Linked DNA regions of Homo sapiens: region 2 is linked to region 1. The links come from fine-mapping of genetic effects on gene expression. A gene starts in region 1. The other region holds a variant in brackets. All regions are shown on one strand. Distances are between the middles of the regions.

Evidence for each region.
Region 2: its variant is fine-mapped to the expression of CALB2 in atrial appendage (GTEx, PIP 0.98).

The regions. Positions count from the first base shown.
Region 1 is chr16:71,351,243-71,367,239 of GRCh38, forward strand. It overlaps CALB2 (calbindin 2), which reads left to right and starts at 7,481. Exons shown (of 11, transcript NM_001740.5): 1 at 7,481-7,644. The coding sequence starts at 7,551. RefSeq lists enhancers at 7,212-8,177, 9,204-9,498 and a silencer at 7,280-7,509.
Region 2 is chr16:71,399,732-71,415,728 of GRCh38, forward strand. LINC02136 (long intergenic non-protein coding RNA 2136) reads right to left here. Exons shown (of 3, transcript NR_146574.1): 2 at 15,134-15,264; 3 at 10,710-10,803. Among named protein-coding and RNA genes, the nearest start is that of LINC02136, 19 kb to the right of the region's middle. RefSeq lists enhancers at 12,291-12,792, 12,866-12,955. The variant T/C (reference allele first, on the strand shown) is at 9,585.

The DNA.
Region 1 (15,997 bases):
TCCAGGAATGCTCACCTCCTCCCTCCTCCTGGTTAGTTCACTCTCAGGATGGCTTCCTACTCATGCTAGATACGGTCGCTCCCTGATATTCACTCTGTTTTCACTTATATGTGTGATTGTGTGGTTTGATCAATGTCTGTCTCCCTCACTGGACTTTAAACTCCTGAAAGGAGGAATCATTTCTGTTTTGCTAGTACAGTGCCTGGCACAAAGTAGCTGGCTAATCAATATTTTTTACACAGCATGAATGAATAAAATTTGTAATGAATTCATGAGTGAATGAAATGCAGCCCTTATCTTTGAACATCTCATTCTCACATTCCTGCTGCATTCTGGGGAATCCTGGAAGTGGGGCACTGTCCCTCTAGGGACATTTTTCCCATCCTTAGTAAAGGAGTCCAAATTCCTGGCCACCTGGAAGTCCTGTTCTGGCAGGAAATAGAGCAAATTTGTTTGCAAATCAAGCCCAGGGCTCCCTGCCAGGCCCCCAGGCAGAGCCAAGCCGGCCTCACACGGACGCCCTGTGGATTTGCACTCATGCACGCTACATTTCCTTGTGTCCTCCTTGCCTGCACCTTTCTCTTCGTCCTCCACCTCCTTTCCTTAGAAATCCCATCTCACTATATGGAGTGATATGATCAACTTCCAGCTCAGCTCAGAGAAGATGAAGGGACTCTTCTAGATTAGCCAAGCACATTGGTGGATCTGGAACCCAGTTATTCCGAGAGCCCACTCGACAAAAAAGAGAACAAAAACAGCCAACACCATCGACCCTGTGCCAATCACGGTGCTAGGTAATTTGCATAGATTATTTTATGGAATCATTACAACAATCCTTCTACACAGGTTTCATTAGGATTAGAGAGAACCTAGAATTCATTTACTAGATGAGGGCCAGTAAACTATGTCCCACAGGCCAAATTAGGTCCACCAAGTTCTTCTTCTTCTTCTTCTTATTATTATTATTATTACTACTACTACTAAAAGAAGTATTATTGGAACAGAGTCATATTGCTCTGTTTACATATTATCTATAGCTGCTTTTGCACTATAATACCAGGGTTGAGTAGTTGAGACAGAGAACCTACGGCCCACGAAGCAGCCCCCCTCAAAAAAAATTCCTATTTAGCCCATTACAAAAAAAAAGTTTGCCAACTCCTGTTTTAGATGACACCCTTCCCCCAGACTCTCCCTTTTATATTTGAATTCGTTTGTCCGAATGTTTTTTTTTCACCCAATGTTAAAGCAAACATGTTCCGCAGCTTGTTTGAATTTTCTGTGTTGAGCACCCAACACTAGAGGTGTCAGTTACTTTCACCATGCCCATAGATGTCCCTAAGGGAAATAGGCCCCTCTCTGTGCTGCCCACTGCCCTCCTGAGACTTGTCCCCAGCCACAGCTGATTGGACTAAGAGATGGGTGTCCAACCCTAGGCGGCCTTGCAAGGCAGGACAGCAGCTGATGATCTGAATGGCTTCACATGAAAAGATAAGCTAGACCAACCAGATTTTTCTCTCGGGAGTCTGGAATATGGAAACAGAGGCAAGGCTGTCAGGGGAAATGGAAGGTAGAGGAGTCTTGGGGACAAGTTGTGGCTGGTGACTGTAAAGGGCAAGGTTGTAAGGATGCCTGCTGGGAGGGAGAGAAGAAAATAGAGGCACAGTGCACACAGAGACAATCTGTGAAGGAGTGGCCCTGTGCTCTAAGAGAAAGAGGGACAGAGAAATTTGGTTCCAAAAGGTTGCCTGTTTCCAGCTCCCATGAGGACAACTGTCCTCTTCATGGATTATCAGTCAGGTCTTTTAGGTTGCAAATGAAAGAAAACCTACCATAAATGGGCTTGAACACTAAAGGGTATATATTGACTCGTGCAACTGAGAAGTCCAAAGGTACTTCAGGCTCAGCTTGATCCAGCAGTTCAAATGATGTCACTTGTGACCTGACTTCTTGCAGTCTCTCTGCTCTGCCTTTTGCAACATTGGCTTCAACCTCAGTGTCTACTCTGTGCTCTCTCCCATTTCCCTCACTCCAGGCTCTGCACTCATGGTGTCAAGATAGCTGCAGTGATTCCAGACCTCACAGCTTCACACCAGACTGTCTGCAAATAGACAGGAGGTCCCAGTAGCTCCTTTGCATTCTGGGATATGATGTCTCATTGCCTATCCCTGAACCAGTTGCTTTGGCCAGGGTGGAGATGGGTTGCACTCATTTGGATTAAACTCACCATCACTTGCCTTCGGTTTTCTCCCCTGTAATAACATTTGAATGCTTATTTTGTTCCAGGCCTTGCATCACCCTTAACATGCATTACCTCTCTTAATGCTCACAAAGCCTGTGAGGCAGTTACTAGGATTATCCCCATTTTACCAATGAGGAAATACAAGCTCAGAGAGCGTAGACACCTTACCCAGGATTACAAAGCCAACACATAGTAGAACTGCCGATAAAAAGCAGATCCAGGAGCTGAAAGGGGCCTGTGGAATTCTGGAGCCTGAGCCCTCAGCCCCTGTGTCCCTGCTTGCGGAGGGAGGATCACCCAACAGCCCCCAGCTACTGCTATTTCACCTCCTGTTGCTATCCTGGTGACCCAAATCCTTTGCACAGAGGGAGCTGTCCATAGATCTCAAGTTTCAGACCGGGTTATTCACAAGTCCTGCTTCCACCTCTGGGTTCCTCTGGTTTCTCTATTTTCTCCACCACCTCAGTCCGTTTCCATGGAAACTGCTGGGCTCCTGCATCCCTTTCATCCTCCTTTCTGGGAAGCAAGGCCAGCTCTCCAGCACTCCGGTAGCCAGGCCTGACCATTATAAAAACCAAAGAAGCAATATCTGGAAGAAACACTTCTAGGCATAGGGAGGTACCAGGTCAGGCTTCGTATTTTTTCCTTTGAAGTGCTCCAAAATAACACCAGGTGCTCTAAGGAGCTCAGCCAATTACCGAAGCCCAGTGGATCCTGGCTGGAAAGTTGTTTGTCATCTGTCCTCTGACATCTCACCACTTCAGTCACCAAGCCTCCCTCCCTTCTTGAGGGAGTGATTCTAGGGTCCTGGGGCAGAGGGACAGTTGGGCAAGTCTCCCTGCCAATCCTTGGTGTCAGATCACAGCACTCAAATGAGCTGGTGGGCTGGGGATGCGAAAGTGAAGGTGGTCCCCAGTTTGCCCTTCTGGTGGAGGGAGGAACCAGCCATCAGAGAACTGGTGGGTAAACAGTGGGCTTGGCATTACTCCTTAACGCTGGGAGGGGCCCTGTGGCTCCAGTGGCCAGGGTCCGGGAAGAACTTTATACATAGTGCCCAGGAGCTTGGCACCTGGTCCACAAAGACTCCATATACCATGGAAACTGGAGGGGACAAAGTGTTCTTGGTACCCCACCCCTCCCAGGTCTTGGTTGGGTGTTAATCTCTCTGAGCCTTGATTTCCCTATCTTTGGAATGGGTCAAATTCTTGCATTGCACACCTGATAGGGGAGTTGTGAGGACCAAACAAAGCAAGACACATCAAAACCCTCTGTAAAGGCATTTAAAGGTATCCTCACGGTTATCGCCATCATTGTCGTCATCATCATCATTATCATTATTGTAATAAAACTCGAGGGGAAGTCCTGGAAGGGAAGCAGAACCCCAGACATCTGAAATTACTTACAAGAGCCTTAATTCACGGAAATGTGCTCATAAATGTTCCGTCTTTACCGTCACTGCTTTAAAATACGCTCATCGAACCTCTCTTTCCTATCTCTGAATGATTTCTTATCTGAGTCCATGTTTCTCCTCACACATTTGGTTATTGAAACTTGGACCAGTCCAGCTAAGACTCCAGTCTCTTCTCCAATGCAAAGCTCTTCTCCTTTCCCATTGCAAACTGGACAAGGAGCTTGGGTCTGGAGCTGAGCCTGGAGAGAAGGGATGGCTGGCTCTAAGACATCCCCTCCTGGTAGGGCAGAGGGAGCTGCAAGGAGAGATGAGGGGCGGGAGGTCTTCCTACCTCTCTGGTCGCTTGCAGGTTGTAAGAGCATCCCAGGCTTTGGCTCCCGCTGCTGATCTCTGAGGAATTTGAGGGCCTGTGCATAGTGGAGTGAAGGTTTTTTGGAGCGGTCTTCAGCTCCGCTCTAGCTTCCTCAACACCGAGGATATCATAAACACCAGCAGGTATCTGGCTTCGGCCCCCTCTTTAAACTATATGCACCTTTCCCAGGAGCCATAGCAACCCCCAAGGGCTGCCGAGAACCATGGTGGCTCCCATCTTCCTTCTAGACGCAGGACAGGGCAGTCTAAGCTGCTTTCATAGGCCATCAGACAGCTCTGAGTCAGAAGCAAGCGCCAGTCCCAACTCCATATGTGGCCCAAACTCCAGAACACTGCTCACCCCAGCCCACTCTGGAGCCAGGTGACATCTCCAGTTCCTCCTTGCTGCTGAAATCCCCCACAACCTGAAGGGGATTTCTGGGGGTTCCTCCAACAAAACTTGACTTCAGGACAGCCACAAATGCTGCACTCCCAGAAGGCCAATGCTCCTCTCTCCCGCACCCAGACATCTCCCCTGATAATCCCTGGCCTTGGTGGGTGGTGGCGGGCAGGCTGAGCAAGCCAGGAAGACACGAGGCATCTGATTGCTGTGATTCCAGATGTGGCCTAACTGCCACTATTTCAGAACAACAAGAAAAATCCCTCCTCACATCCTTGCATTGGTAAGAATACCTGCCTATTAATTAAGCACTTACGGCTGCTGGGGTTCTTGCTAGCTAACCCCTTGATTACATTCTTTTTGGTGCTTCCACTGACTTTGTGAAACTAATTACCTTGATTTTTAGAAAGGTTCAAAGAGGTTAAATAGCTTTGCCCAAGGCCTCACAACCAGCAAGAGGGTTTTGAGCCCATATCTATCTGACTCCAGGGCAGGAACTTGTAACTGCTCAATGTGGCTGTTTCTGCAGGACTCAACTTGGAGATAAACCACAAACGCACCAGCTTGGGCTCCTCAGTCCTCCAGGAATGGGCCTCCCAGAAACAGACCAACTGTGCATCTGAAATGAACGAGGCAAGACTGTCCCAGTAGACAGTTTAAAGGTCACTGTGGCCACCCTACTGTCATACCCAGAACCATGTCCCCCTGATCTCAACAGCTCTGGAAAGCAGGAAGTAGGAGCTTCACTCTTTACTCCTCACCAGGAAAACCAAAGTAGCATGGAGACACTGGCTTTGCTTCTTGGAGAAGCAGGGATGAGCTCTCTCACCCAACACAGATTTGGGACAGGGGCCTGAATGACAGGTGTCAGAGCCCACAGGGCTGAGCCTGGCCCCGTGGGGGGCTGTGCAGCGCAGTGGTTAAGAACTTGTGTTCTGGAGACAGTATCTGTCTTAGCCTTTCCCGTTGGCCTCCCGTTGGGGTCAGCCCCTCCAGGATCCATTCATTAGCTACCCCAGGGGAGGTGATGCTGACTGAGAAATTTCTTGCCAAGCCAACCACTGATCACTGGCTCCATGAAGGGCGGCAGGAGCCCTAACTCATTTAATCCTCAGAACAATTATATTATTATTATTATTACTATTATTAGAGACAGAGTCTCGCTCTGTCGCCCAGGCTGGGGTGCAGTGGTGCGATCTTGGCTCACTGCAACCTTTCCGCCTCCCGGGTTCAAGCGATTCTCCTGCCTCAGCCTCCCAAGTAGCTGGGATTACAAGCATGCACCGCCACGCCTGGCTAATTTTTTTTTTTTTTTTTTTTTTTTTTTTTTTAGTAGAGACTGGGTTTCACCATGTTGGCCAGGATGATCTCAATCTCTTAACCTCGTGATCTGCCCACCTCGGCCTCCCAAAGTGCTAGGATTACAGGCATGAGCCACGGCACCCAGCCAACAATTCTAAAAGGCGTATGCCCACATGCCCATTTTGCAGAAGAGAAAAACTGAGGCAGAGACAGGTTATATAATTTGCTCAAGGTCACACAGCTTATTCTGGGATTCACACCCAAGCAGCCTGATTCTTGAGTGCCTACTCTTAACCACTGAGTCATCCTGCCTCCCTAGGGACTTTGGTGAATCTCTCAGCAAGGTGGATGGGTACCTCTAAAGCTAGCTTTTGATGACTTCTCCCCCCAGTCTGTTCCTGCAAGTAACTCTAAACACATTCACCCTAGGCAAAGAACAAGTGGTTTTGGAACCTGCATTCTCTATTGCCCCTTTGAGACTCGCTCTGGGCTTGGCCCTCTCTCCAAGGGACAACCCTCTCTCTGTCTCCTCCTGGGTTCCCCTCTCCCCCAGCGACCTCCTTTTCATTCTCACTTACCTCCTTGCCTTTCACTCTCCTCTTGGAAGGTGGTTCAGCTAACACTCATTAGCACATGTTAAAGATCGCCAATTCATGTCTCAGTCACTCCGTAGCAGGAGAGGGGAGAAAGGAGGGATGATGCTGTCACTCTGTGGGTAATGTGTCTTACCTTACCACACCACAAGGCCAGGACAGACCCCTAAGGGCTCAGACCGCAGGAGAGAATGGGGAGAGGGCCCAGCTCCCTGCTGGGGAGTCCTGTCTGCTGCCCTCAGGATGTGCGCTCAGTAGCTGCGTCTATTTTCTCTGAGACCAGCTCAGAACATCCCCAAGACAGAGTTGGACGTTGTTCTCTGTCCACTGGAGCAGGCACATTCCCACGATGTCCCTAGGTGGGCGTGGTTAAGACCTGGTACGGGTTGATCTAGTTCTGCCACCCCCTGGCCAAATGTCTAAAAGCCCCCCAGAGCATGGCCAGCGTGAGGCAGGTACCAGGGGTGGAGGGAGGCTCCGAGGGGACGGATATACGAAGACCCAAACAGACAGTGGAAGCCCCCCACCCCCACCCCACACCACTTCCATCGGAATCCTCCCGGGGCACTGCTGATTCCAGCTGCTCCCCACTAAAGCCTTGAGAACTCTTGGCTGCTCTGCAAGACTGAGCCCCATGAAGGAGCCACGTGCGGCGTGGAAAGAGTGCTGAGTTCAAATTGTAGCCCTGCCACTAATTTGCTGGGCCAGTCACTTAATCATCTGAAGTCACAAGTACCTCATCAGAAAAGTGGTCCCAGCTCTTCCTGCTGTGGAAGGATCAGAAGAGAGGAGGCACGACAGAGACCTAGTGAACTCCGAAGCCCGAGTGCTAAATATTTGTCAAGTTTGTGTTAGTATTACTATTAGTGTTGTTACTGCTGTTATTATTATTGCTACTGCCAGCAATAATAAGTGGTGGATGTACTCAAGACGGTCGGGAGGGAAGGCAAGGGCAGCCTCTCCCTCATTTTCACCGAAAATCCTCCGGGTGTCCCTGGCCCCGCGCCGAGGGGTCTCAGCGCAGAGGTAAGGGCCCTCTAGGAGTCCGGGCCGAGCCTCTCGCGCCGCCGCCCCCGCCGCGCCGCGCCCCGGTCGGATTCCCTGAGCGCGCGCGCCCCCTTCTGGCGGCCGGGCGCAGGCGCAGGCTCCAGAGCGTATATAAGGGCAGCGTGGCGCACAACCCCAGCGCGAGTGCCAGAGCCCAGCCGGCGCGGAGCGGGAGCGGTGCAGGCTGAGGTCTCCGAGCGGCTCGCCATGGCTGGCCCGCAGCAGCAGCCCCCTTACCTGCACCTGGCCGAGCTGACGGCGTCCCAGTTCCTGGAAATATGGAAGCACTTTGACGCAGACGGTCAGTAAAGCTCCCAACTTCTGTGCCCATTGGCACCCAGGGGACCTGCGGTGAAGGGGGCAGGGGGCGGCGCTGAATGCGGGCAGGTGTACGTTTGCCCTCAGGAGGTGGTCTGGTCGCAGAGCCTGCTGGGGTAGTGGTCCCGGGTTTGGGAGACATCCGGCTGCTCTGGGCACAACTGTCAGTAACTTTCTTCCCTAACATAGATGACCCAGAGCCCACCCGCATTTGCACCTTTATTCTGAGCAAGTGGGAGCTTTCTCAGAGAGGTGGCCTGGGCTGGGAAGGCCTCCAGGTTCCCCCTGCCATCTCCCCCACCTCCCCTGCCTTCAGCTGCTCCAGCCACAGGTCTCAGAAGACCACTCATTTCTTTCCTCCTCTTCCCCTTTTGTTGAATGCTAGGTTAGCCCCCTTACCCTGCTGGAGGCTGGGATAAATTAGGGGATCCTGAAGGGAAACGTGGCCTCCCCAGCTTGATTGGCTGGGAGCAGGAGTGGAAAATGGCATTGGGGGCCCTGAACACCCCCCTGCTTCCTTTGTCCATTTTCCAGCCGCCGTGGGCATGTAGGTTTCCCAATACAGCAGCAGTGGGTGTGGTGGCGGGCAGCGTTGGGGTGCCAGTCCCAGACCTGTTCCCTCATAGTGATAATCCTGGGTACTCTTGGTGACTTCATCTCTGGGTAGGGGGAGGCACCACCCTAAGTGCCTCAGTGACTAACCCTCTGCTCTGTGTGGTCTTGACACTGACTCACCCAAAAAGCAAGGGCCAGACCAAATGACCTTTGGAGGTAGCCCCCAGCACTGGGATTCCAAGTGTCTGTGGTGGTCTGACTCAGGCATAAAGGGTGGTCCTCCTTTAGAGGCTTTTGATATCACTAGAGACTCTGTTTCTGTTACTCCGAAAAAATAAGTGATCTGATTTCCCTCTCTACGCACAGACCTGGCTAAGATGAGCATCCAAAATATCCTGGCATCTCAGACATTTTGTGGTGTCTGTAGCTACCCTCCCCTCGGGTAGCTAATGGCTCCTGGAGGGGCTGACCCCAAAGGGAGGCCAACGGGAAAGGCTAAGACAGATGCTGTCTCCAGAAGACAAGTTCTTAACCACTGCACTGCACAGCCCCCCAGGGGGCCAGGCTCAGCCTTGTGGGCTCTGACACCTGTCATTCAGGCCCCTGTCCCAGATCTGTGTGGGATGACAGGGAGTTTATCCTGGGGTCTGAGAGCAAGGGGGATGGAAAACAGAGGGGCATCAGGTGTGCCTCACTCCATTCTTCCCTCCTCCCTTCCTCGCCTTGGCAGGGTGTGGAGGTGGCTGGGCAGAGATCCTCTGCCCAGAGTGCTATGGGGAGGCAGGGGTTAATGTCTGGGGATGCTAATGGGTGAAATTTTGTTTCCTTGGAGCCAACTGAGAAAGCTAGAGGGGTAGGGGACTAGGCATTTGAATACCTGAGTTAGGACTGTGATCTGCCTATGAATTACTGATGGAAGTGGGTAGATTGTTAAATCTGTAAAATGGGGCTAAGGAGGGATTGTGTTTCCAATCCCCAGCTCCTGCCATAAAATTCCCTTGGTACAAAGTGCTCTCCTAAGAGAAGTGCAGCCTTTTAGTATTCCAGATGACATGCACATTCCCTAAGGAGGCTCCTGCCAGTTTATCTGCACCAGACTTGCATGATTCAAGGAAAGTTACCAAGCAGCCAAGGTTACACCACTGGCTTCCTGGTAGATGAGTCAGCTATAAACAGAGGACTCTATAGTTCTACTTTCCCCCATTCTCAGAGGGACAAGCAAGAGCACTGTCCATAACCACGCAGATCCTTACGTTGATCTGAGACATTGTACTTAAGCACAATTGCACCTTCTCAAGGTGTGAGGCTGCTGGGCAGACCATGACTCCCCTTATACAGATGAGGAAACAGACACAGGGGTTGACTTTTCCGAGGTCATGGAGCAAGTTACTGGTGGGGCTGGTTCCTGGCCAGCGTTTATTCTCCCACTCTGGTTCCTGAACACCTGCTTGGTTTGGAAGAGGGTTTTTTTCCATGATGATAGGTATAAGTCTCCCTCCCATTCCCCCAAAGAAAAGCCCCCAGCCCACCCTTGGGGTTGATGGGCAGTTTCGTGTATCCCAAAATGGGGTCCTTGGCTTGGCTAGAGTGTAGTTAAGCTACCACCAAACCCATGATCTTCAAAGCCTCCTAAAGCCATTGTGCCTCTGGCTCCCTCCTGCTCCGGGGTGAAGGGGGAGCTTGATGCTTGCACCTTCTTCCTTGTCCATCAGACTTCCACTGCCATCTCTACATCACAGCCTCAGGGAAGTCCCAAGGAAAGGCCATGGACCCGACAGAGAAGGAGGGCCATGAGGATTAAAATACCAGAGATGAGAGAGAGGTGACTTAGGAAGATATGTATACAGCCAAATCGGAATTCCACAAAAGGATCCAGAATTAGGCTTTGGGCGACCTTCCTCCCCTCCTGAACACCCAAAGGCTGCCAGGTGAGCCCAACACCGCAGTGCCTGAGGCACTCCCAGCCCTGTTTAGGCCTCTCTCCTACCAATTCTGGTTTCCGTTTTCAACATGGGGTTTCTTCCCAATTCTAAGAGTACCCCCTACCACTCACAATCTTAAAAACACCTGAGAGAACTCTCCCTTGCAGCTCTCCAGGTCCCTGGAGTGGGCTCGCTGGAGCCCAATTAACCACAGCCCCCAGAGAGTTGGAGCCACCTCCCCACCCCTTCTGGATGCTGGCTGGTAGTAAACAAAGACAAAGAGACCTTAGGAGGCAGCTGAATCCCAACGAGAGGGAGGATGGGGGCAGGAGGACCCTTAGCCCATTCCAAAACAGAAAAAGCCACCATCACCCTAAAGAGTTGGATTATTTTCAAAATTCTTATTAGCTTTGTGGTAGAGAAAGGAAGAAGTGTATGTTTGGAGAGTGAGAAACTAGGACTCAAAGAGGCAAAATTCTTTTCACAAGATCACACAGCAAAGCAGGAAGAGGTGAAGGGGGAACCAGGAATCTGGTCTCCTAGTCCGCAATACCACTCCACCAACTCTGCCTCAGCAGTCAGCCAAGAGCATGCGTTTGGGAGGGTTCCAATGTTGTCTCTCAAAGGCTGAGGTAGGGAAGATGACAGCCAAGCCCACCCAGTGACCCTGGTGGGGTCTAGGGCTCTTCCGAACATCACCTCCATGCTCCGAGTGGCCCTGACGTGGCCTTACGTATCTGAGCCCATTGCTCTGTTGCTTCCTGGACACTTCTGTATCAGGACCTTTCCCCCTCTAAAGGATCCAGGTGGCTGAGGGATGCCCAGTTCAGAGTTCACACTGTCCTTTATTTATGGTTCTGATTAGACAGGCCACCGGGCTCCTATTTTACTGACCATCTGCGAGCAGCAAAGTTGTGGCTCCAAAGAGAAATGCCTTAGCTTTTGCTACCCCTTTGAAAGCAACTAAGAATGTAAAGATAAGATGAGTTCTCTTCCAGGGGCAAGCAGACATTCATGGGGCCAAGGTGAACATCCTACTCCCTTCCAAGAATCTAGCCTACATAGATATACTCGTATGTGCGCAGAAAGTTATATGAACAAACATGTCTATTACAGTGTTCTTCGGAAATACTAACAATTTCAGTGGGTGGAGGGGAGAATGTGCTTCACTGGGGGACAGAAAAATAAATATGGTCATCCCTATGATGGAGTATGATAGAGCGAAGTGAAGCTTTTGTAGTGACATGGAAAAATGTCCAAGATGTATTATTAAGATATTGTTTAAAACTGTAGCTGAACACTATTATAAGCCCGTTTTTATTATGAATGATATATGTATGTTGCAGGATATTTAGAAAAATACAACTGAATAATAGCGGCTCTCTCTGAAGAGTGGATGAGCCAAATGAAAGGGGATTTTCTTTTACTTTCTAAGTTAATTTCCATAGCACTTGAAAATTTTACAAGAGCATCTATTTCCTGTGTAGTCAGCAAAACAATAAAGATATAAGAAGGGAGGCCAGGCACAGTGGCTCAGGCCTATAATCCCAGCACCTTGGGAGGCCAAGGCAGGAAGATCACTTGAAGCCAGGAGTTCGAGACCAGCTTGGGCAATACAGTGAGACCCCCCCTCCCCCTACTACAAATTTAAAAATTAAGCAGGTGTGGTGGCGCACGCCTGTAGTCCCAGCTACTTGAGAGGCTGAGGCAGGAAGATGGCTTGAGCCCAGGTAGTCCAAGCCTGCAGTGAGCTATGATTGCACCACTGCACTCCAGCCTGGGCAACAGAGCCAGACCCTATCTTTAAAAAAATAACTAACTAAATAAATAAAGATATAAGAAGAAAACAATGTGATAGACACCTTTTCTTCCCTTGTAAGAAATATGTATATGTCTCCAGGTGGGGGGATCTGCCTATACTCTTCTGGGCTTCTGTCCACCTCCAAGTGGCCCAGGTGACGTAGGGGGTGCTCAAAGCCTCTCACAGGGACTGAGTCCTGTTCCTTATCTATGTGGACCCTGAGGATTTTGAAAATAACAACAGAGGCCACAAAGGGCTGAGGATGGCTCTACGCAGGCTCCCATCCTCGCCCTCTGAAACCCAGTGACCTGGCAGAAGTCTTCTCCAAGCCCACACAACACTGAGGACCACTCAGGGCCAGACTGCAGTGCCCAGGCAGGCTCTTCCAGGGCACGGGTCACTGCTCATTTGTTTGTCCCTGGTTTAGGGAATGGGGAGGAAATTTAGAACAGCAGCACCTCTCAGAGATGAACGGGAACCTGGGCAACTGGCCCTGGGCGGCTGCATGAGAGGTCCTGCAATACCAAAGTGAAACACATGCTGAAATAGGGTCACAAAATATGTGATGTATATTAAGTGTTTATATAAATGACACAACAGTTACAATGCTATAAGGTAATCATAGGATTTATCAAAACGATTGGGTCTTGGCCCATTAAAATCAACAGGGTCCGACACTGGGAACCAAGATTAAAGTTGTCAGAGGAGCGCTTTCTCTGAACCCTGTTAGTGAACCTCTGGGGGTCTGTATACCTCTCAGCTGGGCGTGGCGTGATGTCAGGATATGAGGCTCTCAGGGAACAGCCGCCTGACCCATCTGGGGTAGGCCCTGGAAAATGTCCCCCACCCCTGCCTCTGCTCCCTCCCCCAACTCCCCAGTTTTTTCACTAACAGCGTCCTTGGGTTGTGGAGTGTCCACGTGCAGCAGCTCTACGCTGGGTACCTCCAGGTGGGCTCTTGCCTGCTATGGCTCTGCTTCTCAGACTCTGATTGCACCAGCCGGCAGCGGGGAGCAGCTGGTCTGTGAAGAGCTGGGGCTCCCCGGGGGAGCCCGCCTAAGGGACCCGTTTCACAAACAAGATGCCAGCCCTGCATTGCCTTGATATTGACAGCCAGGCCGGCTGTCCCTGCCCTGCTCAGCTTGTATATTCCCCTCCAGACTTCAGCAGCTTTACCAGCCAAGCCCCTGAGGGAGGTTTCCAGGGCTAAGGAGACCCCTCAGGGAAATCAATTCCAAAACCAAAGGAGCTAGAATTAATAGAGCAGGCCTGAGGCTCTTCAAGAACAGTGCCTCTCCAGCCCCAGCCTGCCGGCGGATTGCATCCCAGGCCCTCCTTTGCCAAGCCGGCCCATCTGGGGCCTCTGGCTTCAGCCCTCCCTCTGTCCTTGTTGGCTCTTCACTATCTCCCCTCTCACCCAATCTGCCCTATCCTTCTGGCCTCCCTCATGCCTGGGACTCAGCCCAGCATTAGGCTGCCAGATGTCCACAGGTTCAGGGGACCCAGCCCAGCTCCAGAACCACGGGTCCAAAGCAGCACAGCCCAGAAACATAGATTGAAATTCAAGTGCCCAAACATTCAGCTGGTGGCTGGTAGCTCTTCACTCTGGGGCTTATTCTTTTTTCCAGAAGCCACTGGAAGAAGCGTGTGTGTGTGTGTCAGAGAGAGAAGCCAGGACAAATGCAGATATGGACAGACATTGTCCCTGGGACAAATAGAAGGAGGCCAGGACCTCTGTCAGCTGTGGCTGAATCTCCTTCCCCCTCCGATTCCTCCTTTCTAAGATGGGGTTGATAACTGCTTACCTGGCAGGGTCGTAAAGAACAGATGAGGTGGGAAGTGGAAAGCTTTTTGGGAATGGTGCGCACCAAGCAAAGCAGGATTAATACTGGGGCAGAGCCTGGGGAAGCCAATTTCTTACCCCAAAGGGTAGGATTTGACTGTCCCAGAGGGTGCTCCAGATGGAGGTTAGAGGACTGTTTGCCTTCGATAAATCTGAACTCCAGATAGACCGACAAGCGGCCTGGCCTCCTGGATGCCTTCTGGTGCAGCTTAACGAGGAAATTCCTTAACGAGGAAATTCTGGTGCAGCTCAAGGAGGAAGGTGCGAACCTTCCCTCCTTTGACCTCTCTAATCTATGGACTGCGAGTGCTACACAGACTGGTGCACTAGAAGCGACTGGACGCAACATCTTGAGTGTGCTGAAGGGCTGCTTAGAACACAGGCTTCTGCACCCCATCCCCAGAGACTCAGATTCTGTAGTCCTTAGAATTTGCATTTCTAAGAAGCCCCCAAGTGACACTCATATGTCTGGCCTAGACCAAAATTTGAAAACCACTGAGCAAATGCGTCTCAGATTTTAGCACACTGATGAATCACCAAGACAGTGTGATCCATAGATTGTTGGGCACCACCCCCCAGAGAAAGATTCAGTAGGTCCAAGGTGGGCCTGGGATTCTGCATTCCTAACAAGCACCCAGGTAGTTCCAATGCTACTGGTCCACAGACTGCACTTTGAACAGCACGGCGTTATGCTCCAATCCTACTGAATTAGGATCTCCACTTTAATAAGTGGAGATTATTACGGTACTTTTTATGTACCCTAAAGTTTGAGACATGCTGCTCTGAAGCGGTTCCAAGCCTTTACTGTTCTGAGCTTTAGAATCACCTGCAGAGCTTTGAAAACACCCCCTTCCCCCCATCCATTAAATCAGAAATTCTGGGGATGGGGCCAAGGCAACAATGTTGTTTTCAGATATTCCCAGGTGATCCTAATACACAGCCTCAACTGAGAACCAGTATTCTTTTTTCTTTCTTTCTTTGTTTTCTTCCCTCTCTCTCTCTTTTTTTTTTTTTTTTTTTTGAGATGGAGTCTCACTCTGTCACCCAGGCTGGAGTGCAGTGGCAGGATCTTGGCTCACTGCAAGCTCCACCTCCCAGGTTCACGCCATTCTCCTGCCTCAGCCTCCCAAGTAGATGGGACTACGTGTGCCCGCTACCACGCCCGGCTAATTTTTTGTATTTTTAGTAGAGACGGGATTTCACCGTGTTAGCCAGGATGGTCTCAATCTCCTGATCTGTGATCCACCCACCTCAGCCTCCCAAAGTGCTGGGATTACAGGCGTGAGCCACAGTGCCTGGCCTTTTTTTTTTTTTTTTTTTTGAGAGAGAGAGAGTCTCGCCTTGTCACCCAGGCTGGAGTACAGTGGCACAATCTCACCTCACTGCAACCTCCGCCTCCTGGGTTCAAGCAATTCTCGTGCCTCAGCCTCCCAAGTAGCTGGGACTACAGGCACACACCACCACACCCAGCTGATTTTTGTATTTTTAGTAGAGATGGGGTTTCACCATGTTGGCCAGGCTGGTCTTGAACTCCTGGCCTCAAGCAGTCCACCTACCTCAGCCTCCCAAAGTGCTGGGATTACAGGCGTGAGCCACCACACCTGGCTTGAGAACCAGTATTCTAAGGAAAGCAGTGGTGCTGGAACTCTTCAGGCTAACGGGTTTTCATCTATAAATTGATTTAGAGGAACTTAAGAGGAGGGAGTATAAATGGAAGGCAATATTTGTTCCTTCCATTTATGTGAGATTTTACATCTTTCAGAATGCTTCCACAACATTACCTTGTACAGCTCTCACCATAACTCTGTAAAGTAGAGAGGGCATAAATAGTTATGCCCATTTTAGAGATAAAGAAACTGAGGCTCAGAGAGATTGACTTGCCCAACATCACATGGACAGTCATAGAGCAGGCGGTAGAATTATTAATATTATACCTCTTACTCAGGTACCTCTTACCTGTTCAACTCCTAGAAAATCTGAATGTACAAGGCTCAGGGAGAACAAGGTCTCCCTGAGGTCTCTTTTCACTGAGGGGTGAAGCCTCCTCTAGGCATGGCTTCCCAAGTGTCCGTGGTCAGATGAAAGGTAAAGAAGTATTGTCTCACTTTAAATTGGGGGAAACTGAGGCACGGTAGTGGTGCGGAATGGTAGCAAGAGTAGAATAAGGAAGGATGCAGGGTCTCTGGCTCTCACTTCGGCTCTGCTCCCTCATGTTC
Region 2 (15,997 bases), 48 kb after region 1:
ATTTTACTAAAATGTAATACATTTCATAGTTTCTTTCCAGAATCAGGTATCATAAAACAACATCAATAAAATTCACTTTCCAAATTTTGTCCTTCACAGTGCCCTTTCATATTCTAAAACAAACTGACAATTAAGACAGGAATTCTGCGAGGTCGAAACAATTTTCATAATAATGCCAAAATATTACTTATGTTACCATGCAATGGGTCCATCACTGCTATTTTCAAAAGAATTCTTTTAAACTATTTCACAACAGTCTGGATCTGTGTTTTTCCTGAGGGTGAAGTTCTGCGTGGTGAGGGCATTGACAAATCGCCAGGGACTTCCCATAAAACACACATTTTCTAAAATATTTAATAATTCATTAATAACATTTTGTCTACATAACTTTAACCTGGGGAAGGCTGAGCATCTCTTCCAATCTGACAATTCTTCTCATGTAAATCTTATAATAGGAACGCAATCAAAGAAACCTAGCATCTCTCTTCTCATAAGGTGGAAGAACAAATCTCGGCGATTTTCCAACGCTCCTCTGGGAAATTATTGTAGGTGTAAAAGATATCCCGAAAATTCCTTTTCATTTTTTTTTTCCTGTCTAATTTCGCAAGGCAACATCTAAAGAGTTGTCAGAGATTTAGATGCTTGATTAATATGTGCTCATGGGTGGCTGAGAAACAATCTTTGGTGACTCATTTAATTAAGTGATAAGAAAGCATTTAAAAATGAACAGACCCAAGAGTATTGAAGATATACGTCCCCATAAAAACTCACACACAAATGTTCCTAGCATCATTCATGATAGCTACAAGTGGGAGCAATCTAAATGCTAATCACCTGATGAATGGAAAAACAAAATGTGGTATACCCGTACAATGGAGTGTCAATCAGCCCTAAGTGGAACGAAGCCCTGATACATGCTCCAACATGGATGAACCTTGAAAGCATTATGCTGAGTGAAAGAAGCCAGACATAAAAGACCACGTACTGTACAATTCCATTTATATGAAATGGCCAGAATGGGAAAATCTACAGAAACAGAAAGTAGATCAGGGGTTGTCAAGGGGTTAGGGGTGGCGAGAGAGTAACAGGAAGTGTGTGCTAATGAGCGTGGGCTTTCCTTTTGTAATGTTCTAGAAGTAAATGGTGGTGCTGTTTGCAAACCCTAGCGATATACTAAAAACCATTGACCTGTACTCTTTAAAAAGGCGAACAAGATCTCAATTTCTTAAAAAGCCTATGCACGCATGAACTGCAAAATAAGTAAAATAAACAAAGAAGCATACGTATAGCTTGTTCATGAGCAAGGAAGTTTTGTTGTGTCCTATTCTAGGGCATTACAAATTAAACATAAAACACTATAAAGTATTCTGGTATGACACAGAATCTTTGCTATCCAGAATAACCGTTCCTGTTCTAGGCAGTGGTATCCATCAGTAACCAAGGAGGCAAGCTCATGAAACCACAGCAGATTTTACTAAAATGTAATACATTTCATAGTTTCTTTCCAGAATCAGGTATTATAAAACAAAAAGAATAAAATTCACTTTCCAATTTTTGTCCTTCACAGTGCCCTTTCATATTCTAAAACAAACAGTTAACTAGGACAGGAATTCTGTGAGGTCAAAACAATTTTCATAATAATGCCAAAATGTTACTTATGTTAACATGCAATGAGTCCATCACTGCTTTCCTTTTTTTTTTTTTTTTTTTTTTTTGAGACGGAGTCTCAATCTGTCACCCAGGCTGGAGTGCAGTGGCGTGATCTCGGCTCACTGCAAGCTCCACCTCCCCGGTTCACGCCATTCTCCTGCCTCAGCCTTCTGAGTAGCTGGGATTACAGGCATGCACCACCACCCCCGGCTAATTTTGTATTTTGTATTTTTAGTAGAGATGGGGTTTCTCCATGTTGGCCAGGCTGGTCTCGAACTCCTGACCTCAGGTGATCCACCCGCCTCGGCCTCCCAAAGTGCTGGGATTATAGGCATGAGCCACCGCACCGGGCCCATCACTGCTATTTTCAAATGAATTCTTTTAAGTGTCTCCTTTCAATTTCTAATGCAGTAAACATCAATAGCATTAGCCCACATAAACAAAAGCTCTTTGGGAAATCTCAGTAAGTTTTTAAGACCGTAGAAAGGAAGGTCATACCTTAAAATGTAGCATTGATTGAGAAAGGAAGGAGGAGAAGAAATACAGAATGATACCATCTATGTGAATTAAAAGTGCCTACATGCAAAACAGCCACAGTGCTTTGTTAGAGCATTTTTCTAAAGGCACCCAAGACAAAGAGGAACGATGCCTGCAGTGGGAGAGGGAGGCCTAGGAGTGAGAAATCTCATTCAAAGGGAATAAAACAAGAGAGGGACCTCACAGAGACCCCCTGATCGTGACCTACCATGTACTGCGGAGTGTGCTTAACTCACCCTCTGCATCAGAGGCTTCCACCCTCCCTCCCACAGAACAACAGCCCCCTTGGTCCCCTGCCCTGCTGCAGCTGCAGTTCCCCAGGACAGAGCTGACGCCATCCAGAGACCCTCCCCTGGGCTCCCAGCATCATCTGGGAGGATTTTCTCCAGCAAACCCACACAAGGTGAGGAGCAGGGGTGAGTCTGTCACCAAAGGAGCAGCATTGCAGGATAGGGAAGGCCAGTGGCGAGGCGAGCACACTGATCAGAGGCCACTGACATTGACTAAAGGACTGGGTCAGTTGCAGGCACAGAGCGGGAGCGCTGGCCAAATGGGAAGCACGACAAGCAATGCAGACGCAGGCAGAAGGAGACAGAAGTGGATGGCAGGACTCACAACACCCTCTTCCTGGTAAGGGCACATGTTCAAGGTGCATGCATTAGACAGCCCTGTACCCAGGGTGATGGGGAGGGAGGAACAATGAACCCAGCAGCGACACACGAAGAAGCCAGCATGAGGGGCCAGGAGCCCAGAGAAGAAGGTTCTCCAAAGGCACAGAGCAGTCACAGGGTCCAATCCCACCGACACTGACCGAAGGGCACATGCTCCTTCACTTTAAGCCAGCAATGGAGATAAACACTCGTCATCAACACCAAACGACTTCCCTGGTTTCTGTGTAACCAGCACTCCTGTCCGGAAACTTGCTGCTTGTCAAAGAAACACACCTTACTGTCATACGGTGCAGCTGTGACATTGCTCAGATGACATTTTTTTGTCACGAGCTGTCATATGACAACTTCTTTTTTTTTTTTGAGCGTTAGTACAGGCTGTGCATTGTGCTGTACTCACACCCAGGGGTAAGGTGAGGAACAAAGGCAGCCCAACCCCTGCCCGCACACATGAGCCCCGTCTGGCGAGATGGCAAAAAATCACAGCAATGCTCCTGCCCTCTGGAATCCCACCCAAAACGCCGGCCTCTCATCCTATCCATCCCCTTTGGTAAGCAAGCCCCTCTGTCTCCACTTTGTCATCTTCCCTCTATCCCCCTCTGCTCTCTCCTCAAGCCCAGCCTCTGTCTCAGCCAAGCTGGTCCCCGTGGCCTTCATGGCCCCCAGCAATTGGCCCAGGACAGGCTTCTGCCTTGGGACTGTCCTCTTTGGGACCAGGGAAATGATTTGCAAGTCCCAGTGCTGAGAGAAGATGTGGGGCCTTCTTCTTCAAAAGTCATTAGACATTAAATGATTAATAATCATTTAATTAATAATTAAGGCAGCAGCAGAGCATTAAACCAAGCTCAGGGCCTGAAGCCAGCCCTGCCCCATCTTGAATGTGGAGACAAGAGTTTATCTCCAACCTGGGACCCATTAACATGTCCTGTTGTGAGCAGGGGACGTCGTCAGCCTCATCACTAACTGCTCTGAAAGCAACCTAGAATCTCATCAGCTTCCCCGAAGAGCTTGCTGAAATTCATCAGAACAGAAATTGCAAACTGAAATGCAAGGTGAAGGAAAAGCAAGGGTTTTAGATATGAGTTTTAAAAATTAAAGTTTTAAAGAGTCCTGCCTGACCACAGAGCTATACCCTAAATCCCAAGAGCCCTTGGCCCTGCTGCAGTTGTCCTTGGTCACTCAAGGCAGGGACGGTGGGATAGGATGGAGGGTCAGCCAGGGCTTGCTGTGGGCACCCAGAGGGCAGAGGCCTAAGGGCTGTGAGCTGTGCCCAGAGACACCACCTTGGGGAGAGACGCCTCACTCACCAGGCGGCCCTGGGAGTCCTGGAGGAGGAGGCCGCAATGGACTCCCTTTCCACTGTGACTTTCCTTAACCTCTGGTTTTATGAAAATCACGGAAGTCAGGATATTTGCTCAGAAAACAGGATATTTAATCAAGAACCAAGTAGTTCAAAGCATGGCCACAGTCATTGTTAAGAAGCTGCAGAGACACAGGCAAAAGTATGGCAGGGGAAAGAGATGGCCCAAGAGGGCAGGGAGGCCACACATCCTGGAGAGGAGGCCCCCTCACCCAGAGCATGTCTCAACTGTAAGATACAATAAATCTTTCTGAGTTTCTCTTCAAAAGGTTTAGCCTGTTAACTTCCTTATCCTTTGTTCTCAAACTCAACTTTGTTTTTCCTTGGCCCTAGTTACCGTAAACAGCCTAATCCTTCCCATCAGCTCTAATCAATAACTCACATCTGTTCCCTTGGTTACCTGTACCAGTTGTTCCCCAGAAACTGCACGTCTCACAAGCTCCACCTCTGTACCTCATGTCCCCCTCCTCTGCTATATTTAGGAAAATATGTACAAGTAGCCAGTCGGGTCAGCTCAGATTGTGTGGTCCAACCCCAGCTCCTGGGGGAGTGACACAGAGATAGGGACTGTGTTAAAGATAAAAACCCCCTGGTCTCCTTTGTTCTGTGTGCACTTGGGATCTTGATTGACACAAGTGACACCCTTCTGCAGAAGTAAATTGCCTTGCTGAGAGGATTAAACTTTTGCCTGCGTGTGGTTTTACTTCCCGGCACTGAGCATTTATTCCTGGAGTATTTTATATCCAACACAACCAATGAGAGACAGGAGCTGGTGGGTCAATACCCTAATTTTTGGTGCCATTTGCTATCACTCACTGCCCTCATCTTGCCTGCCTCACCCTCCCCAGCATCCAAAGCACAAGTCAGAAAGCAGTTGAATCTCAGGGTGAGAACAAAGTCTGACACATCCATTCATGATGAACCCAGAGGGCAAAACACTGTCCACCGTGGTTTAAAAGAGGCAGTCCTCTTCCCTTCCAGATGGAAAGAAGAGGTGTCACTGAGCCACAGCCGGGAGAACAAGGGAGGCCCAGGTACAGCCAACGCTCTCCTGAAAATTCAAGAGGAACCTCACACAAGCCTTCAGGACGCCGTCTACAGCAAGTCATGGTTCTGCAATGCAAACAAAGTCAGGAAGAAAGAGGGAGGTTTGAAAACAATGCGGCCTTCCAGGCCCGAGTGAGAGGATGGGTCAGCCGGGCAGGAGTGACCGTGTAAGTATCGCAGCAAAGGAGGCTGAGTGCTCCCTGCATCAAATCAATGCTCATCTGGATAATGAAAGTACACCCTCACAGGCCTCCAAGAAGGTCACTGGCAAAACGTCCCACTGGTGGACAGACACCTGATCAGCAAGGGGCAAGAGCAGAGGCTGCTTGAAGAATCTAAAGCAAACAAACAGAAAATCCAAGACCTGGATAAAAAGTGAGAAATACAAGAAAGGCCTGACACAATTCCAAGTTGCATTCTGAACAAGAACACCACAAACCCCTTTTCATGGCACAGGGTGTTAAAAGAGCTCTTGCCAGCCGGGCGCAGTGGCTCACGCCTGTAATCCCAGCACTTTGGGAGGCCGAGGCGGGCGGATCACGAGGTCAGGAGATCGAGACCATCCCGGCTAAAACGGTGAAACCCCGTCTCTACTAAAAATACAAAAAATTAGCCGGGCGTAGTGGCAGGCGCCTGTAGTCCCAGCTACTTGGGAGGCTGAGGCAGGAGAATGGCGTGAACCTGGGAGGCGGAGCTTGCAGTGAGCCGAGATCCCGCCACTGCACTCCAGCCTGGGCGACAGAGCGAGACTCCGTCTCAAAAAAAAAAACAAAAAAAAAAAACAAAAAAAAAAAGAGCTCTTGCCACAGAGTCACTTGAGACACATTTCTGGGCAAATACACAAAGGAAGAGAGACTCTTCAACCAACTGTGTCCCTCCAAACAGCCCTGAGAAGTAACAGTCATCAGAGACTTCCCAGAAGATACCCTCGACCACCAGAGTTCTGGCCCTACACCCACATGGGTGAGGTCTTCCTCCCACCACCAACAGCCAACCTGTGAGGTCTTTCTCTTTTTGCTGAAGGGGCCCAGTGTAGACTGGAGGCCTCAAGACTAGTTCCTAGGGCCATCTGAGGCCTCCAGTGCAGTACCTACCTCCTATTAGATACAGCTGAGGCCCCACCAATACATACAAGAGACCCTTCTCCTCTAAAGAGCTGGGCATCAGAGGCTGCCCATGGTTTCCATGATTTCCATGATCACACCATGACAAGGGAGACCACCACCCACCAGGAGGAATTCCTAAGCCTCTTCTTCTTCCCACTTAGGGTTCTTCTTAAACCTTCTTGAAAAAAACACAATCTGTGCTTTCCCTAAATAAGGACTTCCTTTTGCCTGAGCAGGTATATGCAGACAATAATCTGAGGTTTGAGATTAAAAAAAAAATCTTTTTGACCACTGTAAAAGACTGCCACCAAACTATTTCCTCCCACCACCAATCACGAGCCAAGCCACAAAGTCCTCATCCCTCACTGGGGAGCTCAACCTCAACTGGGGACTGCGCCTGCTGGGGAAGCCCCTCCACTTTGTCCCAGGGCTCACCTGGGGTCTCTCCTGACCTTGCATCTGTGCTTTGCTGCAACCTTCACTTCTGCAGGTAAGTACACAAAAGGTACCGTGTCAAAGTATCAAAGAGGAACCAACCCGGTTCCCAAAATGATGGCGAATCCAGTGTCAGCCCAATCAACAGCTCCTCAGCCTCCCTCCCTGGTTCTCCTGAGTTAGATTCAGGAGACTGGGGTCCCATCTGTGGAGGCTGGAGGCTGGACGTGCTTCAACATTGGCTATGCTGTCTGTATACATAGCAAATGAGAGGACTCAACACTGCTAGGATAATCTGCACCACAATCCTCTGTGCAGCGTGCCTGGCTTTAAGAGAGGTATCCTTGGAGGCGTGTTTGCAATTGACTCCAAATCTGAAACCCCAGCACTGTGACCACAACACTCACAGGAAACCAGAATATCTGAAACGGTGATGACTTTCCACACTGATTTGGTCTCATCATGCTGCAACCGACATTCTAGTATCATTATTTAGAGAGTCCGGGGATAATAGCCACCTCTGCAGAGAGCTTCTTCAATGCCTTGAAAACAGCCAGCAGCATTTCTACGGTGCACACACCTCGCCCAATTCTGGACATCTCCACCTATGTTACCTTTTTCTGTGGCACAACCATGCTATCGCAAGGTGCTAATTGGAATCTTAAGCACCGAGTTCACAGGACCAGCTGCACAAATGATGGCCCAGGTCTACATGATCAGAAAGGAGGCTCCAATGGCCATGCCCAACACCATTGAGACGTTTGTCCTAGAGCTCAACTCCATGCTGATTCTTGTAATAGAAAGATATTCCATGTGATACCTGGGGCCATCAACCAACTCAGGGCAAAACTAGAACCTGCTTCTCTACGCCAAGGCATAGAGGCGCTCCTTGTTGTACCAGCTGTGTTTCCAAAGCTTGCTTCTGGTGCTCTGTGTCATTCCTGGGACAACCTCAGCAAGGAGGAATTATTATGCTGCTAAACTTGTGACTGAAGGGCTGCTCCGAAGCAAGCTCTGGAGACATTCAGAAAGAAAGTTTCTCCAAAATCTGGAGGAACATTTCTCACTCCAGAGCAGCAACACTTCTGTGAATTGTATGGAATTCCTGGGGAGATTTTAGAGCAGGTGTATAAGAAGCCAAACAAGAGAAGAGCCGAACCATCCATAGAGGATGGTGCAACAAAGCAGCAGCCAAAATCAGTGTTGGAGACCCTCCTCACATCCGGGGTGCCAAAAGGAGGTGCCCACCCACTCCCCAGGATCTTTTAGGCCACCTCCTAAATAGTGGAGACTTCAAATGCATCCAACTCTTCCACCTCTGTCTCCTGCTGGTCCTTCTCCATAAGACCCTTCTCTGATCTTTCCTCTGAATGAGGAACTACTAATTCTGAGGCTTGTGGTTAAACAGAAATGTATTCACCACAAATGAAGATTATCTCAAGATCTTGCTCCCCACAAAATTAACTGTTTCATTTTAATTGTAGCTCATATTTTAATAGTAAAGGACTGAAAGGTTTATGTTGCACTTAATGCTCTCAAAAACCTTTAGGGTGTTTGTTTGTTTGTTTGTTTAGAGACAGGATCTCACTCTGTCACCCAGGCTGGAGTGCAGTGGCACAATTATAGCTCACTGCAACCTTGAACTCCTGGGCTCAAGTGATCCTCCCACCTCAGCTTCCTGCATAGCTGAGACTACAGGGGCATGCCACTGGGCTCTGCTGAATTTCGTTTCTTTTTTTTTTTCCTCTCTTTTTTTTTTTTTTTTTTTTGTAGAGACAGGGTCTCACTATGTTGTCCAGGCTGGAATCCTTAAGGTTTGCATAACGAGAAACACAGTAAGAACCAAGTTCCAGTTGATCAGGCTGCCCTACCAGATTAAGGAACTCGTACTTTATATCCAATGGGGCTGCAGTTTGGAAGCCCTGTAGTCGTCGACTTTCCCTTTAAGCAGTGCACAGAAATAGGAAGAGATCAATAAAGCCCAGAAGAGAAATCTTGCCAAACTTCAACACAGCAAATAACAACCACTTATCGAGGGCTCAACTCCACTAGGAACATCACAAAGCAGCAGTTCTCAGTTGGGGGCAATTTTGTCCCACTCTCACCTCCCCAAAGACATTGAGCAATGTCTGAAGACATTTTTTATTGGTGAAACGAGGTGGGGATGGGGTGGAGGGTGCTACTGGTATCTAGTGGGTAGAGCCAGAGATGCTGCTAATCACCCTGCAATGCACAAGTCAGTCCACAACAACAAGGAATGATTTGGCCCCACATGGCAAGATTCCCCAGGTTGGGAAACTCTGGTATAAAATAAAGGCACCTGAAACACGCCCCTGACCCCAACCCCAGGCATCCAGTCTTTATGTCATGATCCCTCTGAACATCTTAGTTAAGCTATTGCCTTTGCTCCTAAGGGAAAAAAAAATATTTATACATGCATACACAGAAACAAAGCTTTGCAATTTTGGGGGGCAAGGTGACAGAGCAGGGGCCTTGCCATTGTGGACAAGCACCTTATTTTAAAATTCATCTTAATCAAAAACCGCCTAAAGCCAAAAGGCATCAGCCTAATGGCTAAGGTCGGCATGACCAGAAACTACAAATAACATCTCCGACCAGAAACATTCCAAACTCCTCCCCAACCAGAGACATGCTAGCCCCAAGATAACCCCCCTCTGGCTGGGAAGATGCCAGCCCCAAGATAACTAACCTCCCTCCTGCCGGAAAGACGTCAGCCCCAAGATAACCTCCTCTCTGCCCAGAAACATTCCGACCCGGCTA[T/C]AGACTTCTCCCTGACCCAAAAACATTCCAAGCTTGTGATAAGACCCTCACCCTAAAACCAATATATACTTTTAGTCTGTAACAGAAAGCGCCCCTGACCAAAATCGGCCAGAAGCCCCTCCAGGTTTTATCTAAAGTAAACCTGTCTTTAAAAATTTCATGTTTTTTTCCTCTTTCTTTAACTCTTACACAAGTGTTCATCAATCCCTGATGCCCATTCAGGAACACTCCTCAATCCCAGACACCCAAAGATACTGAAGTCAGGTTCTTTTCCTTTTTCTTTTTTTTTTGTCTCGCTCTGTCACTCAGGCTGGAGAGCGGTGGCGTGATCTCAGCTCACTGCAATCTCACCTCCTGGGTTCAAGCGATTCTCCTGCTTCAGCCTCCCGAGTAGCTGGGACTACAGGTCTCCATCTCCTGACCTCGTGATCCACCCGCCTTGGCCTCCCAAAGTGCTGGGATTACAGGTGTGAGCCATTGTGCCCAGCTGAGGTCAGGTACTCTTTTTAGCGAGTATTCCCATTTTAAAAAATCTTTTTAAATAAAAAGAACCTGGCTCCAAAAAAACCATTTGCATGTATGATACCTCATTGAAACCTCAGAGCCATCCAACCGGGTCAGGTCTACCCGAATTGCCATGGACAGAGAACAAGACTGGGGCACCGAGAGGTTTAGATGACTTTTCTGTGGTGACACAGCCAGTGAGTGGCAGAGACACAGGAATGCCACCCCACCCCTGCTCTGGCCACCACCGGCACTCCAGGTTCTGACACCCCATGCCGTGGAATCGCACGGTGGGATCCCAGCTGACCCAGGGTGCTCCGTCTCCACCCTGGCTTTCCATCTGGCCCACACAGGTGAAGTGCAAAGGCTGATCTCAGAGAAACCATCAGAGGTACTATCACACTGCCTCATCAGTGACAGTCACTCTCCTGGCCAGGTGCATGGGCGTGGATGTGGATCACATCAGGTGTGGAACAGAGGCAGCGCACTCCTCGAGCCCCAGGTGTTTGTGGGAAGCCAACCATACCCTGAATCTCTCCTAGGTACAGGTAGGCCCAGGTGCAGCTCTGACAGGCTCGCCACTCCCGGGCAGGAAACCTCCCAGCCTCAGTCAGCTCCTCTTAATCAGCCCCTCTTCATCTCCAACCAGGATCACCAGTCTGCCAGGCCCCTTCCTGTGCTCCTCAGGAGGCCAGCAGTCTGCCAATATCTGGAACTTAATGAAATGAGAGTAAAAGTGAATCCCTGAGGTTGCCTTATTTTTCCTCCATTGAACCTCTTTCCAGTTCCCTCAGTCTCTCTCTGCCTTTGTTTTATAGTAAGAGGCTACATTTGGACCAGGTGAGCTACTGGTCACGCAGGAGTCGATCTTGCTGTCCTCCTCTGGCTGGACACTATGGCCTGGAACTGACTTCCAGCTCAGGAGTTTGAGCCCAGGAAGCTTATCCTCTGTTTTCACATGCTAGTAGTCACCCTTTTGGTCTGATTGCTGTTGAAAACCACGCAATACAACACCTGCAACTCTGTCGGAAGCCTGTGACAATCAAACTGCATTCACCCAGACTGTGTTCAGAGGCGCATATGTCTTAGAGTTTGCAAATGCATATATTCAAGTCTAAAATCTGTGTTTCAGAAAGCAACAGCCAACCAGATTTAGCAAGTCCCACCCATTTGCCGTAGGTACACCAGACCAATTTTTTAAATGAGTAAAACATTTTTTTTTTTTTTGAGACTGAGTCTCACTCCATCGCCCAGGCTGGAATGCAGTGGCACGATCTCAGCTCACTGCAACCTCTGCCTCCTGGGTTCAAGCGATTCTCGTACCTCAGCCTCCCAAGTAGCTAGAATTACAGCATGTGCCGCCATGCCCAGCTAATTTTTGTAGTTTTAGTAGAGATGGGGTTTCACTATGTTGGCTAGGCTGGTTTCAAACTCCTGACCTCGGCCTCCCAAAGTGCTGGGATTACAGGCATGAGCCACCATGTCCAGCCAAAACATTATTTTAAAGCTAAGCTCCCCACCCTCTTGCTATTCCTTTGGTTCCCCTCTCTCCCCGGGACAAACCCCATTCAACTCTAACATGCATCCCATCTCTGGATATTTCTCACTGTTACAAGGCAGTCATGTAGCCAGGACCACCGTGTCCTGATGTCTAGTGTGTTTGACAACTAACAGAAAAGGGATTTGGCGTTTTTATTTTATTTTGAGACTGAATCTCACTCTATCACCCAGGCGCAATCTTGGCTCACTGCAACCTCCACCTCCCAGAGGCTCAAGTGATTCTCCTGCCTCAGCCTCCCAAGTAGCTGGGATTCTAGGCATGCACCACCACATCCAGCTAATTTTTTGTATTTTTAGTAGAGAAGGAGTTTCACTGTGTTGGCCAGGCTGATCTCGAACTCCTGACCTCAAGTGATCCTCCCACCTCGGCCTCCCAAAGTGCTGGGATTACAGGCATGAACCATGGCGCCCGGCTGGAAAAGAGATCATCCTGTCCACAGCTGGGCCCTATTCGGGATCATCTCTTAGGAGGGCCCTAGCTCCTTTCCTGGACTGTATCTTGTCCCCATGATTGAACAAGGGTGGCTTTCAGGAAGAGGATGGGGAAAGTCCAGCCCAGAACCAGGCCCTACAGCAGAAGGCAAAAAAAAAAAAAAAAAAAAAAAAAAAAAGGTGATTCCCTTGACTCTGGCCCCCTAAGGGCAATGTGAGCCCCCCAAAACCATGAGTCCAACTCCCTGTTGTCTGGGGAGCAGCACCACAGCCCAGGATGGCTTGGGGGATGCATTGGATGAGGGAGAAGCAGGCCCACAAAGGGGAGATGAATGTGTCAAGATCACACAGCCAGGCAGGGCACAGTAGGGACTAGACCTGTGCTCAAGGTACTGGGCCATTTTGCATTTCTGAATGGGCAGCAGCATCAGAACCTTCATACTCCTCATACCACTGACGGCAGGCTCTGTGCATGGGGATATCCTTGACCCTGCACCTGGCACAGAGGGAAGCCAGCCAGCTGCGGACAGTCACGCCCTGGGGCTCTGAGCTGCTCCACTGCACCTGGGGCATCCTGCACCGGGGTGGACAGTTCCCAGTCAAGACGACGAAGACTAGGAGACCCGACCTGGGAACTCTACGTGGCGCCAGAGTGCCCCCTGCTGGCTGACCGCCAAGCAACCCAAACCTCACGTCTGCATCTAAGACTTCTCTTGACTCCCGCCCAGGAGAGCTGAGGGTTGGGTTCAGCGCCCACCTTCTCCTAGGAAGTTTCTCCTGGACCTGCTCTATCCAACCTCTATCTCAGCTGCCGACTACAGGGCCCCCTGCTGTTTCCAGTTCCTGGCCCACCCAGAGTTTTTCCTACTCATGTGGGCTACCCCCAGGACACTGGGAGCGAGGCCCTTGTTTAAGGAATCGTCTTCAGCATCACGGCAGAGGAGGAGCCCACCCATGTCAGGGTGAGTGCTGGGGTCTCAGGGAAGCCCGTCCACCATGGGCAGCGACATTATTTTCCCAATTGTTCTGCGATTCCCATCTCTCTTGGGAACAGGGCTTGCGCTCTGACTGTGAGTGAACAAGATGACCACAAGGGGGCAGCAGAGACAAAAAGCTTCGCCTGAAAACCATTTGCTAAAGTTCTCCACCCACGAGGTAAATCAGTTCCCAGTCCTGGCTGCACACTGGATTCACCTGGTGAGCTTTAAACACTACCGATGCCAAGTTCCCACCCCTACAAATGCTGAGTTAATGGCCCTGGGGTGCCATCCTAACATCTTTTTACAATCTCCCAAGGGAAACTTTAATTTAAAATGCAGAAGGCAGTGGAGGAGGGAAAGAGCGACCTTTCAGGCCATTCTTCTATCGGGCTAGGGCTGAGGATCACTGGGTTAGACCCTTGTTAATGCAAAGCGTGGCTCACGGACCACCAGCATCAAGGTCACCTGGGAGCTTGTTAGAAATAAGGACCTGCCCCAAACCTACTGAGTCAGAATCTGCAATTTAACAGATTCTCCAGAGAATTCATCTGCATATTAAAAGTCTAAGAAACTTACGGTCCTCTTTACCAAAAAGGCACTAGGGAGGTCCTGGTCCAATGCCATATGTACAGTCTGTGGATGCACAGATTAAAGCCCCGAGGCAGGAGTCCCTTTGCCCAAGGTCATTGGCCATGTATTCAGTGGGATGGCACAAACCTGAAGGCCCTGACTCCAGGACCAGTGCACCTTCTCCCACAGCACCCTGCTCCTCCAACCCAGAGGTGGGCCTGGGCACAAGAGGGCAGGAAATGGTGGCAGGAGTTTGGTGGGGTCTTTGAATTTCCCTGTTAGCACGTGTCCTGTGGGGATCCCAGGGATAGCTAAGATACCATCCCTGGCTCAAGGAACTTCTATCCTCATATCTAACTCTGGACAGACGCACTTGGTATCAGTCAAACACAACCTCTTACCTTGAGTCACGTACTAGAACCATCTCTAAATCTAGCAAAACAGAGGAGGGAGAAAAAGACTAGTTTGGATACGTAGCCTGGAAAGGTTTCCTGCAGTCCAGGCAGTGCAGGAGGAGGGTGGGTTAGGTTTCAGGGGCCAGTGGAGGAGGGGGCTGCATTTCAGACCAAAAGACCAAGATGAATGAAGGGTATAGATATACAGGAAAGGATCCACATGACCAGGGCATAGGTAAGGGCTGGGAAGTTGTGGGAGATAAAGCTGGGATGGGACAGGGGCTCGCGGCACAGACCAGACCCTAAAAGCAGGCAGAGCACTTGGCCAGGTAGAACCAATTCAGACCCTGGGCTGGAGGCCACAGAGAGCCATGGAAAGTGTTTGAGCCAGGAGAGGAGTCTGGGCCTTGGAAAGACCTTCCAGCATCAGTCCTGTCAGGTTTTGGAGATGATGCAATGAAGAGAGAGGCTACAGGAACCCTCATCCTGAGAGCTCACTGAGTACACGGATCAAGGCTCATTCATCTCAAGGTCACCAGCATTTGCCAGAGTATTAGCCCCTGGAAGGTGACCTGCAAACAACCATCTCTAAGGGAGACCAGCCTTTAACCCAAGGATGATTTCATTCTTAAGGTCCAGGCTGGGCACGGTGGCTCACGCCTGGAATCCCAACAGTTTGGGAGGCCGAGGCAGGCGGATCACTTGAGACCAGGGGTTTGAGACCAGCCTGGGCAACCTAGTGAAACCCTATCTCCACACACACAAATATATATATATATATATATATATATATATCCGAGTGTGGTGGCACATGCCTGTACTCACAGATACTTGGGGGGCTGAGGTAGAAAGATTGCTTGAGCCTGGAAGGCGGAGGTTGCAGTAAGTCAGGATCGTGCCACTGCACTTTGGGCTGTGTGACAGAGCAAGACCTCATCTCAAAAAAAGTAAAATAATTAATAAATAAATAAAACTTAAGGTCCAGAACAGGAAACGTAGGTCATACTCTTGGGACCTTGAGCTTGTTACACTGTGGGGTGGGGATGACCATAGAAATTCCCTTGTGAGATTACAGTGAGACTCACCTGTGATAATGCGTGTTACCTACCTGGCATCTAGGTGAGGCTCAATGTCATGGCAACTCCATTCTACCTGCTTTTCCCAGGGCTTCTGTGACTTTGCACCATCGTAGTAGTCTCTGGAGCCCCTTGAGATTTCCCTTCAATCTCTTCTTGCCTCCTAATTAACAGCAGCATTTATTGAATGCTTTGACCATATTAAAACACTTTGCATATGTGAACTCGTTTGGTCCTACAGTCATGCCTTGATTCATTCTCTAAATTTTTATTTATTTATTTATTTTTTGAGACAGAGTTTTGCTCTTGTTACCCAGGCTGGAGTGCAGTGGCATGATCTTGGCTCACTGCAACCTCCCCACCTTCTGGTTTCAAGCGATTCTCCTGCCTCAGCCTCCCAAGGATTACAGGCGCCCGCCACCATGCCTGGCTAATTTTTGTATTTTTAGTAGAGATGGGGTTTCACCACATTGGCCAGGCTGGTCTCAAACTCCTGACCTCATGATCCACCCGCCTTGGCCTCCCAAAATGCTGGGATTATAGGTGTGAGCCACCGCACCCGGCCCCATTCCCCAATTGAAAGATGAGAAAACTCAAGGGCAGAGCTGGCACATGAGCATAACAGGGACTTGAATCTGATTACTGGCTCAAGCACCCCTCTCCTAACTACTCTTTCTCATGGCCTCCAATGTGTGACTGACCAAGACTCTCCCCTGGCCACTCCATGACCCTCAGGCCACGATCTCCCTCCATAACTCCTTCTCTGACAGTTGAGGGGGCAAATCTCAAGTCTTTGTTCTGAGCCTTGGTCTTCTCCTTTGACCAACATAACCACATGTCCAGAGACCAGTGGGCTAGATCCACATGGACATCTGTCTTCACCTGAAACCCAACCA